Linked DNA regions of Homo sapiens: region 2 is linked to region 1. The links come from fine-mapping of genetic effects on gene expression. A gene starts in region 1. The other region holds a variant in brackets. All regions are shown on one strand. Distances are between the middles of the regions.

Region 1 (2,917 bases):
GTAAAAGCTCTCGCTTGACAGGCTGCACTGGTTTTCCTGAAACATAATGGGGAAGGAAGTCCCTTCAATATTATAGTTCCTCAACCAGAAAGGAAAAAAAATGCATGAAATCCAAAATTCAGGTCTTACTCATTTCAAAATCATTCCTGAAAGGACACAACAGACACTTAAAGTAGCAGCTGGGGAGAATCTCAACACAGGAAGAAATCATAAGCAATCCTCAACTCTACAGCTTTTCTCCACTTTAAAGCCAGCAAATCTAAAAACAGTATGTTTTATATTCATTGATTAACTGAATTGTGGGGGAGAATTTCTGAAGAATTACTAGAAGCAACTTTTTCAAAACGGGAGCAAGGACATTCAAGAATGCTTTCAGGCAGATACCCTAGGCATAACGGAAAGGAACCTTCTGAGAGCTGGGCAAATTTATAAAAGGGGACCAACATCTAGGAAATGCCTGTTACATGTCAAGCACTATTTATTTTACATGTTACATAAAAAATGAAAGAGTTAGTGAGTGCAAGGTGGCCTGGAGGTAAAGGGAAAGAAGAATGTACACGTTTGAAACAGATGACAAAATAAAACATTTCTTTATGCAATCTCTTAAACAGGAGAGAAGCACCAACTCCCTGATGTACAAGGCACAGAGAAACAGCACTACTAAGCTCTAGCTGAAACAATCACAGATCCTGCAAAGTTCCCCGGCTTTTCTCAGACTATATGGGAGGGTCTTGATTGGGCCAGGAATGTTCTCTCCCTTAAGAAATTTCAAGGGAAAGAGGGGGGTCACTGATAGCGGTAATGCACAGCAGCAAAATACTCTACTTAACTTCTCTGTCACTACTAAGGATGCCGTTATCTTCTCTGTACTTCAGGAAAGCATTAAACGAGCCAAGCAAAGGGTGGGCAAGGAAGCAGAGTGAAATAGAGCTGAAGAGCATCTCAAAACTACTTACTTCATCCCACCTCCTCGCTCTCATTTTGTAAATGCAGAAACCTAGGCCCAGGGAAGCAGCACTCTGCCAGAGCTTACACCGCGTGGGAAGGCAGCGCACTTCAACTCCCACCCGCTCTCCATCATCGCATCGCCTCTGTGATACCCTTAGCCCTTGATGTAGTTAGCACCCACCATCTTTCTTTTCTCTCTCTTCCGTGAGCCTCTTCTCGGCGAGTTTCTCATATTCATCTTTGTCCCACTTTCGGCGAAAGTCCAAGTTTTTTGTCTGTGGGGAGGAAAAAGCGTCAAGATCCGTCGCCGTGTCTGGGCCCCTAGAGAAGCAGGGAACCGCGCCCTCGCGGTCCAGGTGTCTACAGGACGTTTTGAAAGCAAAGCCTCTTTGGACTGTACGAGAAGACTGAGGTAGCCTCAAGACCCCAACCCGAGAAACCTCCGCGATTCTACTGACCCTCTGCCAAGGCCTATTACTGGGGAGTTCTTGAACCTGAACCCTGGGATCTCGAGGAGATATCGGGAAGCCAGTCGGGTGCAGGAGTTTGTCTCTATTCAGGTCTGAAAAACCATTCCCCACCCCGCAAAACCTCCTCCTCAGACACAACACCTACCCCGCTGCCCGACGCCATCTTCACAGCGAAGTGAATGGCGAGCTGAAAAACGCCGTAAAAAGCGGCTTGGAGCCGTAAGGCAAGATAGCCCTCCAATAAGCTTGGAGTCTTGTGTTCTAAACGAGCTAAGGACTGGAGGGTTTCTAAAACAGGCTTGTTGGCCCCGCCTCTGCTCCAAGGAGACAGCGCAGGCGCAAGAGGAGTATGAAGCAACACGGAAGTAAGGGCGCTTGCAATTGTTTTTTGCCTTGGATTTCAAAACAAGCATTAAAGGGTCAAGATTTAGTTCAACTATTTTACAAACAAGGAAACTGAGGTTCGCAAAACAGTGGTCTCTGATCTAGTCTAGCAACTTTGCGTCCACTGCCAAGAATTTCTAAACCTTTTTTAAGGCCGAAGCGCCATTAGGGGGTCTAGATGCCTCTCATTCACCTGCATGCACTAGGGATATGACCCTAAACTACACTGAAACGTTTGCAACAGAGGCACCCTTCCCGACGCACATATAAAAAGCATGTTTTGCACTTGGGCTCTTTTCCTTGAAGCAATGCTACCACCCTTTGGTTCACTTATTTTTCCATCATCTGGGGAACTTTATAGTAGAACATAATTTAATCAGCATAATTGGATTTGGAAAGGCCAGTCATCAACAACACTCTAGAGTGAAGCACTGTGGCATACCGGCTCACTATATGTTGATTTTTAGCAACAAAACTACCTCTTGGCCGGGCACAGTGGCTCATGCCTGTAATCCCAGCACTTTGGGAGGCTGAGGTGGGTGGATTATGAGGTCAGGAGTTTGAGACCAGCCTGGCCAAGATGGTGAAACCCTGTCTCTACTAAAAATACAAAAATTAGCTGGCTACTCGGGAGGCTGAAGCAGGAGAATCTCTTGAACCTGAGAGGCGGAGGTTGCAGTGAGCCGAGATCACGCCACTGCACTCTAGCCTGGGTGACAGAGCAAGACTCCGTCTAAAAACAAACAAACAAAAAAACTACCTCTTGAGGAGACAGGGAAAGAGGGAGAAACTGTGGCTGCTCATCACTGAATACAGAAGCATCATCCCAGGGAGGTTACTTCTACCTCACAGAATTCTCCAATGTACACTCAAGCATTTTCTATGGTCTATGCAAACAAAGCCCTTGATAACAATAACAAATTACCCAAACTACTACACTTAATATTTTATTTAACATGTTATCCAACCACTTCTAAAACAGCCTCCATGGCACGGTATGGAATAGAGCAGTGATTCTGGCACAGGAAATGGTCTCCAAAATCTCAAAATATCAGATCTCTACCTTGTCAAGTCATCTATTAAGTTCAATGTTCAAGATTATCAAGCATACAGCC
Region 2 (2,917 bases), 43 kb after region 1:
GGGTACGTAATCCCCAATGTCTTCAAAAATACTGGGAAAATGGAGATCACTAGCTGGCCAAATTCACACATACACCTTCACTCCCCCTGACCATTTCTCCAGATTCTCATGTCAGCACCTCCCCAAAATGCCAGACACAAGAAATGTACAGACCCCCTCCCTCTGATCAGATGCCAGGGGCTAGGATACATACTTCATGTCAGCCTCAGGAGGTTTCTTCTCTTCCAGCTTCCCTGAAATTTAAAGAGAGGAGTCAGGAACATACTCCTCAGTTAATTTCCACTGAACTTCACCATCCTCTCCAGCTCTTAATGCCCTTTTAAACATCTTCTGTTTAAAACGTGGGTCAAGGCTGGGTGCGGTGGCTCACGCCTGTAATCCCAGCACTTCGGGAGGCCAAGGCGGGCGGATCACTTGAGGTCAGGAGTTTGAGACCAGCCTGGCTAACATGGTGAAACCCCATCTCTACTAAAAGTACAAAAAAATTAGCCGGGTGTGATGGCAGGTGCCTGTAATCCCAGCTACTCAGGAGGCTGAGGCAAGAGAATTGCTTAAACCCAGGAGGCAGAGGTTGCAGTGAGCCGAGATGGCATCACTGCACTCCAGCCTGGGCGACAAAACGAGACTCGTCTCAAAATAAATAAATAAATAAAAATAATAAAATAAGGCCAGGAAGAGTGGCTCATGCCTGTAATCCCAGCACTTTGGGAGGCCGAGGTGGGCACATCATAAGGTCAGGAGTTCGAGGCCAGCCAGGCCAATACAGTGAAACCCCATCTCTACTGAAAATACAAAAATTAGCCAGGCGTGGTGATGCGTGCCTATAGTGCCTATAGTGCCTACTTGGGAGGCTGAGGCAGAAGAATCGCTTGACCCCGGGAGGCAGAGGTTGCAGTGAGCAGACATCGCACCACTGTACTCCAGCCTGGGTGACAGAGCGAGACTCCGTCTCAAAAAATAAATAAATAAAATAAAATAAAATGTCGGTCAAGTATTAGAGCCTTTTTAGAATCTGTCTAGGTTTTCTGGTTTTCACCAAAAAATCTCTTTTAAAAAAAATAAATAAATAGGACATAAGCTACCCACTCTCCATC[C/A]CTCATGCTTCAGACCTGACCACTGCTTCTTAGGTAGGTTAAGGAGACAGAATCTGGCTGTAACTGTCTCCTTGCCAATGCTCCAGTACTCCCATTTTTCTCTGCTTCCCAGGAGCCTCTCAATATTCTGGAGACAGAAAGCTCCAGGAGACCTTGGTTTTATCCCCAAACGTCCTCTGTGGGTAAGGCTTCTCTCTCTAACCCTCCAGGTACCTTTATCCTTCTTCTTAAGCTTCTTGTTACGGGTTCCCTGCCTCAGGTATGAAAGGATCTGGGTCAGCTTGCTAATGACAATGTCATTTGTGGTCAGTGTGGTCTGGGCCTGAAAATACCAAGAAACAAGAATGTTAAACCACTCAGCAGAAATCTCTTCATTTATTCATTCATTCACTTAACAAACTAAAGACTGAATTACAATACAGTAGGTGAAGGGAGGGAAACGAAGTGCTGTGAAAGGATATTCCAGAGATAAAACAGCCTGCACAAAAGCCCTGCATCAAAATGAATCAAGACCATTCAAGAAAGTCAGGAGTCTAGAACATTCTAGAAAGGCCAGATGTTGCAGAGGCTCAAAGTCATGGTAAAGATTTTGCTCTTTATCCTAAGAATGAGATACTACTAAAAGCTTCTAAACTGTAGTGAGACAAAAATTTACATTTTATTTATTTATTTGGAGACAGAGTCTCATTCTGTCGCCCAGGCTAGAATGCAGTGGCACGATCTTGGCTCACTGCAACCTCCACCTTCTGGGTTCAAGCAATTCTCATGCCTCAGCCTTCCGAGTAACTGGGATTACGGGCACATGCCGCCACGCCTGGCTAATTTTTAGTAGAGATCAGGTTTTACAATGTTGGCCCACCTGGTATTGAACTCCTAACCTCAAGTGATCCTCACACCTCAGCCTCCCAAAGTGCTGGGATTACAGGTGTGAGCCACTGCACCCAGCCAAACTGTATATTTTAGAAGGGTAGGGGAGGTAGGGGTGGTTAATAGGTACCAAAAAAATAGAAAGAATGAATAAGGCCTACTACATGATAGCACAACAGGGTGACTATAGGCAGTAATAATTTATACATTCTAAAACAACTAAAAGAGTATAAATGGATTGTTTGTAACACAAAAGATAAATGTTTAACGGGATGGATACCCCATTTTCCATGATGTGATTATTATGCATTATATGCCTGTATCAAAACATCTCATGTACCTCATAAATATATATACCTACTATATATCCACAAAAATTTTTAAAAAAATTCTCTTTAAAGGATGAATTATATGGCATGTGAATAACACCTCAATAACAAGATATAATAACAAATCAGAGTGGAAGTGCGGAAACCAGAGTGGAAGTGCGGAAACCAATTAGAAGCCTTTTTAATAGCTCCAGAGGACTGGCGCAGTGGCTCATGCCTGTAATCCCAGTACTTTGGGAGGCCAAGGCGGATGGATCACTTGAGGTCAGGAATAGCCTAGCCAACGTGGTAAAACCCAATCTCTACTAAAAATAAAAAAATTAACCAGGTGTGGTGATGAATGCCTGTAGTCCCAGCTACTTGGAAGGCTGCGGCAGGAGAATCGTTTGAACCTGGGAGGCGGAGTTTGCAGTGAGCCAAGATAGCACCACTGCACTCCATCCTGGGTGACAGAGTGAGACTTGGTCTCTAAAAAAATAGTAAGTTAATAGTTCCAGCAAATGATTATAGCTTAGACTGGAATGTTATTGGTGAAAAAGTGGAAAAGTGAATGGATTCAGTTGAGATTTAGGAGGTAAAAGTGAACAGCACTTGGTGACATGGTGGACAAGGGACACGGGGCAGAGG

Evidence for each region. PIP is the estimated chance that this variant, and not a neighbour inherited with it, causes the effect.
Region 2: its variant is fine-mapped to the expression of ZMAT2 in whole blood (INTERVAL, PIP 0.99).

The regions. Positions count from the first base shown.
Region 1 is chr5:140,699,125-140,702,041 of GRCh38, reverse strand. It overlaps ZMAT2 (zinc finger matrin-type 2), which reads right to left and starts at 1,595. Exons shown (of 6, transcript NM_144723.3): 1 at 1,564-1,595; 2 at 1,130-1,223; 3 at 1-36. The coding sequence starts at 1,581. HARS2 (histidyl-tRNA synthetase 2, mitochondrial) reads right to left here. Exons shown (of 13, transcript NM_012208.4): 13 at 2,737-2,917. RefSeq lists an enhancer at 1,267-1,336.
Region 2 is chr5:140,656,053-140,658,969 of GRCh38, reverse strand. It overlaps IK (IK cytokine), which reads right to left. Exons shown (of 20, transcript NM_006083.4): 10 at 1,308-1,416; 11 at 194-233; 12 at 1-31. Among named protein-coding and RNA genes, the nearest start is that of WDR55, 7.4 kb to the left of the region's middle. The variant C/A (reference allele first, on the strand shown) is at 1,095.